Regions from separate parts of the Homo sapiens genome. Here region 1 is linked to region 2. Evidence: fine-mapped expression QTL. Tissue or cell type: tibial nerve. Region 2 holds a variant in brackets; the other region holds the start of a gene. All regions are shown on one strand. Distances are between the middles of the regions.

Evidence for each region. PIP is the estimated chance that this variant, and not a neighbour inherited with it, causes the effect.
Region 1: it holds the start of KLK11, and the variant in region 2 is fine-mapped to the expression of KLK11 in tibial nerve (GTEx, PIP above 0.99).

What each region holds. Positions count from the first base shown.
Region 1 is chr19:51,022,375-51,030,474 of GRCh38, reverse strand. KLK11 (kallikrein related peptidase 11) reads left to right here and starts at 3,859. Exons shown (of 6, transcript NM_001136032.3): 1 at 3,859-3,937; 2 at 4,809-4,883; 3 at 5,681-5,837; 4 at 6,165-6,430; 5 at 7,247-7,383; 6 at 7,778-8,100. The coding sequence starts at 4,844. The coding sequence ends at 7,930. KLK12 (kallikrein related peptidase 12) reads left to right here. Exons shown (of 6, transcript NM_001370125.1): 6 at 1,018-1,381. The coding sequence ends at 1,173. RefSeq lists a silencer at 284-515 and enhancers at 2,548-3,104, 3,664-4,221, 4,222-4,780.
Region 2 is chr19:51,061,013-51,069,112 of GRCh38, reverse strand. It overlaps KLK13 (kallikrein related peptidase 13), which reads left to right and starts at 4,021. Exons shown (of 5, transcript NM_015596.3): 1 at 4,021-4,097. The coding sequence starts at 4,046. The variant G/A (reference allele first, on the strand shown) is at 3,680.

The DNA of each region.
Region 1 (8,100 bases), 39 kb after region 2:
GGAAGGCTGAGGCAGGAGAATCGCTTGATCCCGGGAGGCGGAGGTTGCAGTGAGCTGAGATCACGCCACTGCACTCCAGCCTGGGCGACAGAGCCAGACTCTGTCTCAAAACAAAATAATTAATAATAATAATAATAATAATAATAATAATAATGGAGGAGAGGCCCAGGATAAGGGAGGGAGAGAGACAGGGAGTAAAAGGGAGGACCGGGGAATGGAGGAGGGGGAGGGGCAGGGAGAGAGAGGGAGGAAGGGAACAGAGAAGGAAAGATGGGGCAGGGGTTACAGAGAGAGACAGCAAAACAGACGGAGAGGACTGGGAGCCCAGACAGGGAACCAGCTGTTTCTGGGGCTCTAAGTCTTTCCCATACCATCCTCCAGTTGGTGCTGTCCCAGACTGAGAGAGATTTGAGGATGGCGGTCTCTCCCCTCATTGGTCAGGGCCCCAGCCATTGTCCTTGAGAGAACTCTGTGCTTTTGATGGAGTCCTGCCCACCTTCCCTGGGATTGGTCATTTTTGATGGCACTCTCTCCCCTCATTGGTCAGAACCCCAGGCATTGTCCTTGAGAGAACCTCTATCCTTTATGGAGTCCCACCCTCCTCCCCTGGGATTGGTCATTGATAATAGTGTTCTCTCTCCTCATTGGTCAGGGCCCCAGCCATTGTCCTTGAGAGAATGCTCGACTCTTTATGTTGTCTTGACAGCCTCCCCTGAGATTGGTCATTAATGACTGTGCTCTCTCTCCTCATTGGTCAGGGCCCCAGCCATTGTCCTTGAGAGAACCTCTGTCCTTTATGGAGTTCCACCCTTCTTCCCTGGGATTGGCCCCTAGAGACAGTGGTTCTTCTCTTTTGGTTAGCCATTGCCATTGTCCTCCGGGAAAGTGATTATACTCTTTTGTCTAATGACCAGACTTGGAGCCCTCCCCAAGGCCCAGGACTGGGTTGAAGGGTTGGGGAGGAAAACAGAAATAAGATGTCTCCCTTGTTCAGACAGTACTTCTCTTCCCTTCCAGGGTGATTCTGGGGGCCCCCTGGTGTGTGGGGGAGTCCTTCAAGGTCTGGTGTCCTGGGGGTCTGTGGGGCCCTGTGGACAAGATGGCATCCCTGGAGTCTACACCTATATTTGCAAGTATGTGGACTGGATCCGGATGATCATGAGGAACAACTGACCTGTTTCCTCCACCTCCACCCCCACCCCTTAACTTGGGTACCCCTCTGGCCCTCAGAGCACCAATATCTCCTCCATCACTTCCCCTAGCTCCACTCTTGTTGGCCTGGGAACTTCTTGGAACTTTAACTCCTGCCAGCCCTTCTAAGACCCACGAGCGGGGTGAGAGAAGTGTGCAATAGTCTGGAATAAATATAAATGAAGGAGGGGCCATGTCTGTCCATTTGAAGTCCTCATGCTGGTTGAGACTGGAAGAAGGACTCAGCAGTTTCCCTATCTCATAGGAGTAGAAACAGAGCTCAAATAAGGCCAGGCACAGTGGCTCACACCTGTAATCCCATCACTTTGGGAAGCTGAGGCAGGTGGATCACCTGAGGTCAGGAACTCGGGACCAGCCTGGTCAACATAGTGAAACCCCAACTCTACTAAAAATGCAAAAATTAGCCAGGCATGGTGGCGCATGCCTGTAATCCCAGCTACTCAGGAGGCTGAGACAGGAGAATAGCATGAACCCGTGAGGCAGAGGCTGCAGCGAGCCGAGATTGAACCATTACACTCCAGCCTGGGCGACAGAGCGAGACTCCATCTCAAAAACAAACAAACAAAAAACCCAGTGCTCAAATAGGATGAGGGTCTTCCCTGAGTAGTTACTCAGAAATGGAGTAGAAAAAGTTACTTTTAATAATATAGGCCGGGTGCAGTGGCCCACGCCTGTAATCCCAGCACTTTGGGAGGCCGAGGTGGGAGGATGGCTTGAGCTCAGATTTCGAGATCAGCCTGGCAACACAGTGAAATCTTGTCACTACAAAAACACAAAAAATTAGCTGGGTGTGGTGGTGCGTGCCTGTAGTCCCAGCTACTTGGGAAGCTGAGGTGGGAGGATCACCCGAGCCGGGGAGGTGGAGGCTGCAAAGAGCCGAGATCATGCCACTGCACTCCAGCCTGGGCAATAAAGTGAGACCTTGTCTCAAAAACAAAAACCCAGCAATATAAATAAGACACATGTTTCTTCATCTGGCATAATAGAAATAGTGCCCAGAGCTTATAAGCTTTTCAAGAGTCCACAAAAGACCCGAAAAAGAAAAAGAAAATTGTTAGCTCCAAAATACCAGATGAAAGCTGCAAAGTCAACATTTATGACCATTTAATCCAATGTCCATAAAACGTAGCATTCTTTCCACTAGCCAACTGCAGTTTACTTTCTTGTAATGAAGCATACATTGTATCTTTAATGTGGGACGTGGCTTTGTTCTAATAAGACGAAGGGTGGAGTGCAGGCTTGGAAAGCAGGAGAGCTCAGCCTACGTCTTTAATCCTCCTGCCCACCCCTTGGATTCTGTCTCCACTGGGACTCAAGAGGTGAGGAGAGACCATCTCCCCAAATGCACTGAAGGGAAACTGGAGGAGGGAGGGAGTGAGGGGTGATCATACCAGCGGAGGCACATTTGCTGAGCCCCCCCGCAGTCTGCTCTTTCCAAGTGGACCCTCCTGGAAGCCTGATCCCAACCTCCCCTGCAAGCAGGTCTGTCACCCCCATCTCTCAGATGAAGAAACTGAGCCTTGCAGGGGTGGAGTCCCTTGTCCCCACGTCATAAGGGTAGTCATAGTAGTAGGAAGAGGAAGCACCTAGGTTTGAGGCCAGGGCTGGCTGCTGTCAGAACCTAGGCCCTCCCCTGCCTTGCTCCACACCTGGTCAGGGGAGAGAGGGGAGGAAAGCCAAGGGAAGGGACCTAACTGAAAACAAACAAGCTGGGAGAAGCAGGAATCTGCGCTCGGGTTCCGCAGATGCAGAGGTTGAGGTGGCTGCGGGACTGGAAGTCATCGGGCAGAGGTCTCACAGCAGCCAGTAAGTGAACAGCTGGACTCGGGCTGCCTGGGCGGCAGGGAGAAGCGGGCAGGGGAAGGGTCAGCAGAGGAGCGAGGCCCCAGAGGAGCCCTGGGGTGGAGCACAGCCAAGGGCTCTGTTCCCTTTCCTGGACTCGGCTTCCACAGGCCCTGACCTGCCTCCCCCACCCTCCGGTCCTGCCCCTGTGCCTGGCAGCAGCCCCACCTGTGTGACATCCCAGCACACCCCCCCTCTCCTTGCAAAGGAGAAGGGAGCGGCCTAGGGGAGGCCAGGGGCCCACCTGGGCTGGGGCTGTGGAGAGGGAGTGGCTGGGACGGGAGGAAAAAGAGAGACGGAGATTAGATGGAAGAAGAGGGATTTCAAGACAAATTGCCAGAGATGCAGTCAGAGAGACTGACTGAGAGACACAAAGATAGAAGGAATTAGAGAAAGGGCCACACAGAGCCAGACAGAGAGAGAAGAGTGGAGATGGAGACAGGGACGAGGACAGAGAAAGGCAGACAGACACATAGGGACAGAAAGAGAAAAATCACACAAAGTCAGAATTACTGAATGACAGGGAATGACACATAGAACGAGACACAGATTCAGAGACTCAGGGCAGGGAAAGGAAGGCTGCAGACAGACAGACAGACAGAGGGAGGCTGAGACACAGGGAGAAGAGGGGCTTGGAGAGGTGGCACAGGCAGGCAGCCAGTGCCTCAGAGGCCTCCGGGGAGGGCCCTCACACACACCCCGCCCCGGGGCATTAAGGCAGGGCTTGGAGGCCAGTCATCCTGGGCCCGCCCAGGGCCGCCCCCCTGCCAGCCCGCCTGCCTGGTGCCTGGCACCTGGCGCTCCAACCCAGCCTACCTGCTGTAGCTGCCGCCACTGCCGTCTCCGCCGCCACTGGGCCCCCAGAGCCCCAGCCCCAGAGCCTGTGAGTCCAGGAGGAAAGGGAAGCTGCCCCTCCCCGTCCAGGTGTCAGCCCTCCCCAAGGACACCTGTCCCACTCGGGCACCCATTTCTCCCTCTGCTCTGTCCTTCTCTGCTTGGGTGGGGGTTCCTGGCCTCTCTCTACACCTCTCACCTCCGATGGCTGTCCGCAGCCTCAGTTACCTCTAATCTCCATGGCTTCAGCTGCTGAGCTGGCCCTCTGCTCCCACCCCCGCTGGCCAGGGCAGCGGAGGGCACTGGCCCTCCCCTCGACCAGCCCCGCCCAGCTTTGCTTGGCTGTCCTTCAAAAGGGCAGGGGTTTGGCGGACAGGGCTTCAGCAAGCCGGGTGATGGGGGTCCCAGACATTGTCTGGGGCTGAGCCCCCTACTCCCCTCCAGCAGACCTCAAAGGCTCCATATCGCTCTGCTGCGAAGACAATGAAAAAGGGGTGGCTACGGAACGGTGTCTGGTTCCCCTTGTCCTTCCACCCCAAGCTGCTGGGGCCTGGCCAGCTCTCAAGGCAAGAAGGAAAACATCCTCTGACATGTGCCGGGGAGGTCCCATGGCTGACTTGAACAGGGCCGAACCATGGCTTGACAGCTCAAAGCCCCTCCCAACGACTTCCACATGGTTCTTGGTATCTCGGAAGCTTCTAGCTGTGACCAGGCCCTCTCCAAGGCCACCCTAGACACCTAAGATATATTTTAAGTGTTTGGAGATCTGAGTGCTGTGAGAAACAGGGGATTTCCCCAACCTTGTTTCTCCCAAGTGGGGAGCGGGAGCAGGTGAGGGAGAGAGGAGAGGGCATGAGCCAGCCCCCCCCTCCCGATTTCCCCGTAAAGTGATGCGGCCCCATGTCCCTCCTTGTTCCCAGAGGAACCTGGGGCCCGCTCCTCCCCCCTCCAGGCCATGAGGATTCTGCAGTTAATCCTGCTTGCTCTGGCAACAGGTACGCAGGGGATGGGGGCAGGGCAGGATCCTCCCTCTTGAATCTCTGGGATCCCCTAACCCTCTGTGTCTGGACAGTGACAGGGCTGATTCCAAATTACAGAACAACCCATAAGGCACCTGAACTGGAGCAGTGGTCATGAGGGCCTGGATGCCCTTCTAGATAATCCCTTTAAATGCCAAAGGAGGAGAGGTCAAGGGGGTCGTAAAGGGTCCCGTGGAGGGGCTGAGGAAGCTGGAGTTGGGGGAGCAGTCACTCAAAGCGCCCAGGACAGGGGCTACTGACCAACCAGTATGGAAGTATTTCCTTTTTTTTTTTTCCCAGAGACAAAGTCTTGCTCTATTGTCCAGGCTGGAGTGCCGTGGTGCCAACACGGCTCACTGCAGTCTTGACTTCCCGGGCTTAAGTGATCCTTAAGCCATCTCAGCTTCCCCGGTAGCTGGGACCACAGGCACCTGCCACCAAGCCAGGCTAATTGTTTAATTGTTTGTAGAGATGGGGGAGGAGGTCTCACTATGTTTGCCTAGGCTGATCTAGAACTCCTGGGCTCAAGTAATCCTCCCACCTTAGCCTCTCAAAGTGCTGGGATTACAGGCATGAGCCACTGCATTTGACCTTATGGAAGTATTTTCATCCTTTAATACCCGACCCCAGCATCCAGGGCAACCCAGAGGGACACCAGACCAGGGCCCAGACCACCCACTCTCTTTCTCTCCTCCCCACCCCCATTTCTGGGAGTCCTCCTGGTCTACCACCTCTCCTTCCTGAGCCCCTTCTTTTGCTCTCACCCCCTCCAGGGCTTGTAGGGGGAGAGACCAGGATCATCAAGGGGTTCGAGTGCAAGCCTCACTCCCAGCCCTGGCAGGCAGCCCTGTTCGAGAAGACGCGGCTACTCTGTGGGGCGACGCTCATCGCCCCCAGATGGCTCCTGACAGCAGCCCACTGCCTCAAGCCGTGGGTGCGGGGGCTGGGGCGGTGCCGGGGTGGGGGGCTGGGAATGGGGAGATGGATGGAGAGAAGCTCAGGGATAGGGGTGCTGGTAAGGGGATTAGAGATGGGGATGGGTAGTGTCAGCAAGGTTGATGGGCTCGAGTTGGTATTGAAGGTGGGGGGATGAATGGGGTTGGGATGGGGCTATGGCTGGGAAGGGGGCTTCGGTGGGAGACGTGGAAGAGGTTGGAAGCAGAGCGATGTTTCTTCATCCTCAAAGGTGTCACTCACCTCTCCCACCCATGTCTCCCCCGACCTTTCCTCCTCCAACTACTGTCTCTCCCACCTCAGCCGCTACATAGTTCACCTGGGGCAGCACAACCTCCAGAAGGAGGAGGGCTGTGAGCAGACCCGGACAGCCACTGAGTCCTTCCCCCACCCCGGCTTCAACAACAGCCTCCCCAACAAAGACCACCGCAATGACATCATGCTGGTGAAGATGGCATCGCCAGTCTCCATCACCTGGGCTGTGCGACCCCTCACCCTCTCCTCACGCTGTGTCACTGCTGGCACCAGCTGCCTCATTTCCGGCTGGGGCAGCACGTCCAGCCCCCAGTGTAGGAGCACCAGAGGGGAACCTGGCAGGGGGTGGTGAGGAGGGAGTGGTCAGGATTGTGGAAGGGTTCAGGGCATCAGAGATGCGGTTCACAGTGACGATGTGGGATAAGTTGAGAGGATGTGTGGAAAACGTCAGGATAGGGGGGTGGGGACAAAAGTTGGGGCCTTGGAGTCAGACGGACGGGATATGCAATCATACATCCATAACCTCCTGGTTGTAAGACCTTAGGCAAGCAGCTTCACCTCTCTGAATCTTGATTTTCTTCTCTATAAAATGAGAATGATTATACCCACCTGTCAGGATTGGATTAGAGATAATGTATATCAAGCAACTGACATAAATCATTTATTGGATAGCAGGCTGGGCACCGTGGCTCACGCCTGTAATCCCAGCACTTTGGGAGGCCGAGGTGGGAAGATCACCTGAGGTCAGGACTTTGATACCAGCCTGGCCAACGTGGTGAAATCCCATCTCTACTAAAAATGTGAAAATTAGTTGGGCGTGGTTGTGTGCGCCTGTAATCCCAGCTACTCGGGAGGTTGAGGCAGGAGAATCGCTTAAACTTGGGAGACGGAGGTTGCAGTGAGCCAAGATCACGCCACTGCACTCCAGCCTGGGCAACAGAGCAAGACTCTGTCTCGAAAAAAAAAAAAAAAAAGCTGGATAGCATTGCTGTTGCTATTGTTACAAGAAGAGAGGTGAGTTGGCTGCGTCTAAGGACAGGGATTCCCCCAGGGGCGGGATCACAGCAAGCACTGCATTAGGGGAGGTGGCAGGGGGCTCATTCCCACAGCCCCTCACGCTGTTTCCACAGTACGCCTGCCTCACACCTTGCGATGCGCCAACATCACCATCATTGAGCACCAGAAGTGTGAGAACGCCTACCCCGGCAACATCACAGACACCATGGTGTGTGCCAGCGTGCAGGAAGGGGGCAAGGACTCCTGCCAGGTCAGTGTGGTCTCCAACCACAGCCCCATCCCCATCCCCAGCTTCAATGACATCTTTACCGACATCCACAATTTCATCCCCAACCTCAACCCGCCGACCCCTGCAACTCCCAATCCATCTCTTCCCCTGTTCCCGTTTCTGACCTCAGCACAAACTTCAGCTCCATCCCCGTTTCCACACCATTTCCAGCTCCAACCATCCCCAAACTCGTTTTTGAGCCTAACCCCATCCTTTATCCCACCCATAATCCCAGCTTTATCGCTAAACCTATCACCTTTCCCAGTGCCTACCCATCCTGTCTCGGCCCCACTCCTAAGCACCGTCCCCACCTCCTCCCTGGCTAACACCATGCTCAACGCTTTCTCTGACCGACATTCTCTCTCCCCGTGCCCAGGGTGACTCCGGGGGCCCTCTGGTCTGTAACCAGTCTCTTCAAGGCATTATCTCCTGGGGCCAGGATCCGTGTGCGATCACCCGAAAGCCTGGTGTCTACACGAAAGTCTGCAAATATGTGGACTGGATCCAGGAGACGATGAAGAACAATTAGACTGGACCCACCCACCACAGCCCATCACCCTCCATTTCCACTTGGTGTTTGGTTCCTGTTCACTCTGTTAATAAGAAACCCTAAGCCAAGACCCTCTACGAACATTCTTTGGGCCTCCTGGACTACAGGAGATGCTGTCACTTAATAATCAACCTGGGGTTCGAAATCAG
Region 2 (8,100 bases):
CTGAAGGAGAACATGAGAGTGGGGAGAAATTTTTGTTGGTTGGTTTTCAAATTTTAACGAGAGATGGGAGAAACTGTAGTATATTTGCATGCTAATGGGGCTGCTCCTTGGAGAAGAAGGAAAACATGTTGCAGGAAAGAGAACAGAGAACTGCTGGCTGGAGCAATGCCCTCCAGAAGGCAAGAGAGGACAGGATACCAGCACCAGTGGAGGCATCTATCTTAGCTGCAGGTGCAGACTGTTCATCTAGAGAAATGGGAGAGGAGACAGAGGATGTGGGCACGCAGGTAGGTGGCAAGACCGACCTTTCTAATTTTTGCTATTCTGATGGATGAAAGCGATGTGTTATTGCTGCCTGGGATGCATGATGACTGGAGCCACATCCTGAATAACACGGATCCAGCTCTAAAGAAGAATCCATGTTTCTCAACTCTCTGTGCCTCTTTCTCACCAAGAGTCTGCTTCTCACTGGGCATCTCTCTCTTTCTATCTCTGTGCCTCTGTCCTCTGAATTTTCTTTCTGTCCTCTCCCACCTGCCCCATCTTTCTGTCTCTGTGTATTTAGCCCTTTGTATCTCTCAGTCTTCCCCTCCCTTCATGTTTGCGTTGGGGCCCCTCCTCTGGGCCTGGGTGTGGGGCCTACTTTCTCATCCCAGCTAGCACTTCCAACCAGAAGTTCCAGTTCCTGCTTGACAAAGAATCCCATTTTGAAGCCAAGATAGGGAGGGGCCTCCTGGAACCGTCAGATGCCTCCATCTTAAGCTTTACTTATTTAACAGGAGCATTGTGGCCCTTGGTCCATGCCACACTCTCTTCGAAGCATTTTTGGGTATTAATCCAGTTAACCCTTCTCCATAAGGCAAGTGCTATTGATTGTGCCATTTTACAAATGGGGATGCTGAGGCACAGAGCAGTCACATCATCTGAACTCAGGCAGTCTAGCTCCAGAGTCTGAGGTCAGAACCACTAGGAACACCATCTCTTTTTCGGGTCCTTTCTTCTTCTTTCTCCAGCCCGGTTCTCTGTGGTGGAGGAAAGACCTGCACCTGTGACAGAAGCGCACTTGGATTTGGTCCAGTTTGTGTGTGACTTTCAGCCGTGGGCTTGTTCATCAAGTGAGGGGGTGGAAGGTGCCCAGCCCTCAGTGGGTCCATGACCTCACTTCAACCAGAGCTACCCAACCCGCGTTCGGCCAATCATAACCCCTAACATCAATTTGACCTGGCACTCACCCCTCAGCAAATAACAAGGCCAACCACCCTCACTCCAGGCTCCAGCTTTTCCCAAGTGAGAAAGGCTTCTCTGGAAGCATGGACCCAGGTCACAGGAGGGTACAAGTACCCCGATTTCCCACATAAGCTGGTTGCCGCACTTAACCTGGCATCCTACCTCCAGCCACACCACCTGAACACAATTCCACTCAAAAAGTGAACTCAGACCCCGCCCTGTGAGGTGGGAGAAGTCCAGGGTGGAGAAAGACAGTGACCTTTCTTTCACCTTGAGAGGTGGGGTATGACCCAGCTCACCCCCACCAAAACCTACTGCATCATAGACACTCAACCTCATGGCCAGTCCTCATCACCCATGTCAACCCACTACCCCAGCTCAACCACATCTTAACATTTCCCCATCCAAAACCTCAATCTTGGTTCCATCTTCAGCCCCAACCCAACAGTACCCCAACACCAACTTATCCCTAGATACCTCCCATCTTACAATCTAATCCTATCCCAAAACCAGCTCAACTACCACCTCCAACTCTATACCCATCCTCATCCAATTTTCATTCACCTCCCCAAACTCATTGCATTCCTAATGTTGTCATCAGGCCCATCCTTAACCATAGACTCTACTGATTTCCTATATTAAGCCATATTTTTCTTCTTAGCAAAATACTTTGAAATGGACCCAACATTGGACACTGAGGTGTCGCCAATGCAAAGTTAGATGGGTTATCTGATTTTATGAGGTCTCTGTACCCTTTCCTGTCTTTGAGCCACTTTATGACTCTAAATTGTAGGTATCTGAGAGCAATGCAAATAATTCTTGTCCATAAATGTTTACATGAATTTTGCCAGGTGGAAGTACAATGGATTTCCCTCCTCCTCCCAGTGTGGAATAGCCAGTTTTGCATCTATTTGTAAATTCATTTCAGCATTCCTCGTTGTCTCTGTGCATATGGCTCTTTGTAACATCTTACTGGCTCTGCCATTTATTAATGAGTCAAGATACAATCTTTGACACATGTTCATTTCATATATGTCAGAGAGTCATGGTAAGACCATGTTTTAAAAGTTACCCTTTGACACTAGATTTGATCTCCACATCCAAATCTGAACTCCATCAATAAGGACTGTACAAGTTTCCATGTGAGCCCTCGCCCCATCCATCTCTATTCTTTATCCTCATTGTGACACCTCCACTCTCTCACTCTTTCCAAACTTCATCTGGTCCACGTCCCTGGCTTTCTTCCAAATTCTGACCCCACCTCAGTCCTTAATCCCTAATCCTGTCCCCTCCACCCCCTAGGATTAACTCAGGGCTCCACCCAGTCATAGTTCCTGGAGACACCTACTCATTCTCAAAACACCACCCCTTCCTCCTTCCTCTCCCCCACCCCCAATCCACGTCTTCAAAGCTTTCCGGCTCCTGCTTTTTCCTCTCCACCTAGGTCCCCGTGGACTCCCTCACCCCCTCTGGCCCTGCTCCTAAAAGGCCATTTCTGGAAAATGTTGCTTTCTCAGGTCGCATCTCTGCCCCCATCCAAGTCCGAGGGAGCTGATTTTCTATCCACCCAGCTGATGATTTCCTTCTTGTGTCCGGTGGTTGGCGGGAGCAGGGAGGCAGGATGATGGGATAATTGTGGGTGTCCTTGTGTCTTTCAAAAGAAAAAGGGTTGAGATGAGACTGGGAATTGGAACCTGGATGTGTTGAGAGCTAAACCTGAGATGAGGTTGGAGATGGGACTGGGGTTGAGGAACAGGCTGGAGTACTTGGTATGGTTAGGGATGGATAGGGAGGTGGGAATCTGATAGAACACGGCCATCTGGGGGCTGACTGCCTATTAAGAATTATGCATGGGGTTGGAGAAGAGGTTAGAAAACTGGGTGCAGAATGGGTTGAAGTTAGGGATGGGCATGGAACTCAGCGGGGTAGGGGGAAGGAAATGGGCTTTCCCCTTACCCTTTTTTGGGTCCTGAGGCCTGAAAGTTCACAGTGGGTTCAACTCTGCCTTGGGCGGGGTCAGACCTAGGTCCCAGCACGTCCTGGAAGCTCCGCCCCAAGCAGAGGGCCAAGCCCAGGTCGGGGGTGCCTGGAGACATCCCGCTGAGCCACTGGGGGTGGAGAGGGGGAGGCCAGGGACCAGGAAATGCTGAGTGAGCTGGGGGAGGGAGTTCAGGGGTTAAAAGCCATGGTTCGGGGCTGAAGTTCTAGACAGCTGGCGGCTGACGCTCCTCGTGGGCCCCTCACTCAGGTAGGGTCTGCCTGGGGCGGGGGCGGGGAGCGGAGGAGGGCAGGGAGGGGAGAGAAGAGGGGATAGGAAGGATGGGGAAAGCAGAAGGGCAGCTGAGTCAGGGAGAGGGAGAGTGAAGCTAGAGTCTCAGATCTAGAGAGAAACCTGCAGAGACGGAGAGAGGCGAAGGGCGCGGACAGATAAGAACTTGGGCTAATACCAAGC[G/A]TGTGGACAGACCCAGAGGGGTAGAATGGAAGGCAGACTCTGGAGGAAAAGGGCGAGAGTGCACCGACCACCCAGCTCGCCAGAGGGCAGGGGAGGAGGGACGGCTTCCTGGGGTGAGGGGCTGCACGCCGGAGCCCCAGGAGGTTGCACACTGTTCCTCCCACCTCGCCACTGCACCCCCACCAAGGATGGAATTGGAGGCGGGGGGCAGATTCCAGGGTCAGGGCTGTCAAGAGTGAATGAGGCGAGGAGACATTCAGGAGCAGAGAGGTTTCAGACGCGGAGGTTCCGGGCACGCCCTCAACACCCCCTTCACCTTCTCCTCAGGCCCCGCCCGCCCTGCCCTCCCCTCCCGATCCCGGAGCCATGTGGCCCCTGGCCCTAGTGATCGCCTCCCTGACCTTGGCCTTGTCAGGAGGTAAGAATGCGCGGGGGTGGAGGCGCGGCGGCCATTCGGGACAATGGTAGGAGGGGTCAGGCCGGAGGGGGAGGGGGCGTGGGAGCCGCGAGCTCCGCCCCCCGCCCACTCGGGGCCGGGTCCAGTGGGGACAGCTCAGAGCTCTTCCTGCTTGTCCCTGGGTGACCTGGTTTCCCGGCTGAGGTTGGCCCTCCGACCCCAGACCCTTCACCTCCCAAAATACCCTCGCAGCAGCCCCTCCCGCGTTCAAGGCTTCCTGTCCTCTCTGGAAAGCTGAAAGACATGGGTTCGCGTCCTGACGCTGCCGCTTTGAGCCAGTAGCCTAGCAGCTGCTTTGTGCCTAAATTGTTTTCATCTGGAAAATGGGCTTAATCTATAAGTGCTTACCAGAGAAGGTCACTGTGAATATTGAAACGAGGTAATGCGTCGAGCCTTCAGTATGTCGCAGGTAGAAGGGACTTGAAAGTTAGCCACTTAGCCGTTATTACTTTATTAGTAGTATTCCTTTTTTTTTTTTTTTTTTTTTTTGAGATGGAACCTTGCTCTGTCTCCCAGGCTGGAAGGCAGTGGCACGATCTTGGCTTACTGAAACCTCCGCCTCCCGGGTTGAAGCGATTCTCCTGCCTCAGCCTCCCGAGTAGCTGGGATTACAGGCGCCCGCCACCACGCCCAACTAATTTTTGTATTTTCAGCAGAGACGGGGTTTCGCCATGTTGGTTAGGCTGGTCTCGAACTTCTAACTTCAAGTAGCCCGCGTCAGCCTCCCAAAGTGCCAGGATTACAGGCATGAGCCACCGAGCCCGGCCTCTAGTATTCTGTCTTCATACTCAGCCCCTTCCAGAACCTTCTAGATTGTTATTTTAATCCTTGGGTTGACCCCAAACCTATGTGACCTCACCCCAAATTGGTAGTCCTTAAGATCCTTATGGATCTTTCCCATCTTTCCCTGCCGTTGTAGGCAGGTTCTCTGGAAACCCCGTTCATGAATCATTTATTCATTCAACAAACAGCTATTAAACACCGGCCACTGTGCTGGGTGCTGTACAAGCAGAGACACAGTCCCTGCTCTCAGCACCTGGAGTCTAGCGGGGACAGACGCAGATGTTATTCAAACAATTATCCAAATAATTAGTTAATAATTATCTTGACATGAGGTGAAGACTTCAAGGAGCCAAGCCAGGGGCCTAGAGATGTAATGGCGGCTTCCCGACCAGAGGCCTTCCCAAAGGGCTTGACCCTTGAGCCAAGACCTGAAAAAGGAGGGATCTGTGGGTGCCTGGCACCTGGCACCATCCTTGGCCTGAAGGTGGGGTGGCTTTTCTCCTCTGGCGACACTCCCTGGATTCATGCCCGTGCCACTCCTGAGTGCCACACCCTAGGCTAGGAGACCCACACGCTACGCCTTGTGGAGTCCTCAACAACCTGGCGAGGTAGGTGCATTGTAATTACTCCAATTTCATGGCAGAGAAACCTAGGACTCAAAGACAGAAGGCTCCTGCTCCAATGACACCGGCGATGCCTGAGTCAGAATCCTAATCAAGGTTGTTTTCCCTGTCCATATCCTGGACTTGAGGCTCTGAAAACCATTTTTATAACTTTTGACCTAATCATTTGCTTAAAGTTAGCTTTTTTTCTTCTTTTTTCACTCAAACAAAAGCATGTTCAACTTTATATTACTGTCCTGAATAGAGAATAGAATTCTTTGTCATAAATAGAAGGTAAGGAAGGAAATAAATCCTGCACAATGAAAAGAAAATAATATGTTTATTGGGTTGGACCACCTGAAATTGCTGATACTTGACCCTTTTTGACCTTCCTAAAACAACTTTTGCAGATGGTTCAGTGTAATAAATGTTAGGTGGCCTGATGAGGCTTCTGTGTCCTCCTGGCTTTGAAAAGTGAGCTCAGTGAGGATTAGGGAGGTGTTAAAACCATATTAGCACCATCCTGAGACTTTATCCTTGACAAAATCAGGTTTAAAAGAGAACTGGATGCTGGTTCAGCGTCTGAGTGTGCGATTTAACGTTACTTAAATCTCATCTCTCTACCATCTAAAATGATCCTGTGCTCACCGACAACTTCTGTCCCTAACTGCAAACCACTGAGCTAATCCAACTGCTTGCCCTGTAGTTGGGGAAACTAGCTAGGGAGGCAGAGGGACCTCCTGTTGTAGCTAATAATTAATAATAACATTTCCCACTGACTGAGTGCTCTCCATGCCACCTGCTGTGCTGCACGGTTTGAAATGCAGGATCATCTTGAATTCTTCAACTGCGCAATGAGAGATGAACTATTACTTTTTCTACTTGACAGCTGGGGAAACTGAGGCTGGTGATTTGCATAAGGTCACACAGTCACAAAATGGCATGCATGTTCAGGATTGGATTCTCCCTGTCCCACGGACCCCTGCTGTGCTTTCAATGCCAGACACAGTGCCTGGCACACACAGCATTTATTTATTGAGCCCCCATTGTGTGCCAGGCGCTGTGTTAGGTCCTGGGAATATGGTACTGAATAAAGCAGTTAAGGTGCCTGTTGTCAATGGAGCTTACAGTCAAAGTGGAGAGATTTTTAAAAACGAATACATACAAATGTGAAGAGAAATGAATAGCAATCATTGTTCTGATGAAGACCAACTGGAAGAATGTAATGGGGGAGGAGTCGGGACCAGGAGAGTCAACATTAGACCAGGTGGTCAGGGAAGGCCTTTCTGAAGAGGAGACATTTGAGCTGACCTCTCAGAATTAAGAAGGACCCAGACATACAACCTCTAAATTCTGAGGGTCATCCAGTAGAATATTCCATATATGTATATATGAAATATCCTATATCTGTGCTGTCCAATTATCCACTAGCCCCTTCAGGCTATTGAACATTTGAAATATGGCTGGTGTGACTTAAGAACTGAATTTTTAATTTAGTTTTACTTCATTTTAATTAGTTTAAATTTAAATAGCCACATGTAGCTAGTGGCTACCATATTAAACAACATAGGTCTGGAGAAAGGACTGTGCAGAGAGAGGAAATAGCAAGTATAAAATGTCTAGTATGGGGGCATCCAAGATGATTTAAATTCTTCTTTTCTTTAAATGCCTGGTGTGTTTGAAGAACAGGCCCATGAGGCTGGACTAGAGGAAGTCAGAAGAAAGAGGTTGGAGATGGGGTCAAAGAGGCTGGCAAGGGCCAGACAGCACAGAGTCCTGCACACCTTGGGAAGGCTTTTTGGATTTTATTTTAAAGAAAGTTGAGCCTGGGAACAACATCTGACTTTCTTTGTTTGAAGAGTCCTCAGCCTACTTTGAGAAGACTGGATCGGAGGGATGTAAAAGTGGAAGGATTTAGGTTAATGTTGTAGTCATTTGGGCTACAGAAGATGGGGCATGGACCAAGATGGTGGCAGAAGTGTGGAGATAACTGGATATTTGGGAGATAAAACCAATAGGAACTGGTTGTGAGTGATGAAGGAAAGAAGAGAAGCAAAGATGACTCCCAGGTTTGGGGCTGAGCACTGAGGTGGGAAATACTGGAGCGAACAGTTTTGATTGAGAAGAATCAAGTTGGGAATACAAAGCTTAAGATGCCTGTAAGGCATCCAAATCAACAGTGTTTGAGTTTTGAGCTTAAAGAAGAGTTCAGGGCTGGAGATGATTAGCCTATAGCTGGTATTTAAAGCCATGGAGGCAACCAGTATATATGCAGTGAAAGGATAGAGAGATGGGTGGAAAGATGATTGGATGGATGCATGGATGGATATATGGATAGATGGATGGATGGATGGTTGGATTGGATGGATGGATGGATGGATGGATGGATGGATGGATGGATGGATGGATGAATAAATGGACCAGTGGATGGAGGGACAGATGAGTGGATGGATGGTTGGATGGATGGATGGATGGATGGATGGATAGATGGTTAGATGACTACCTAAATGGATGAATGGATAGATGGATGAGTAGACGGATGGACAAATCAATAGGATGAATGGGGGATGGATGATTGG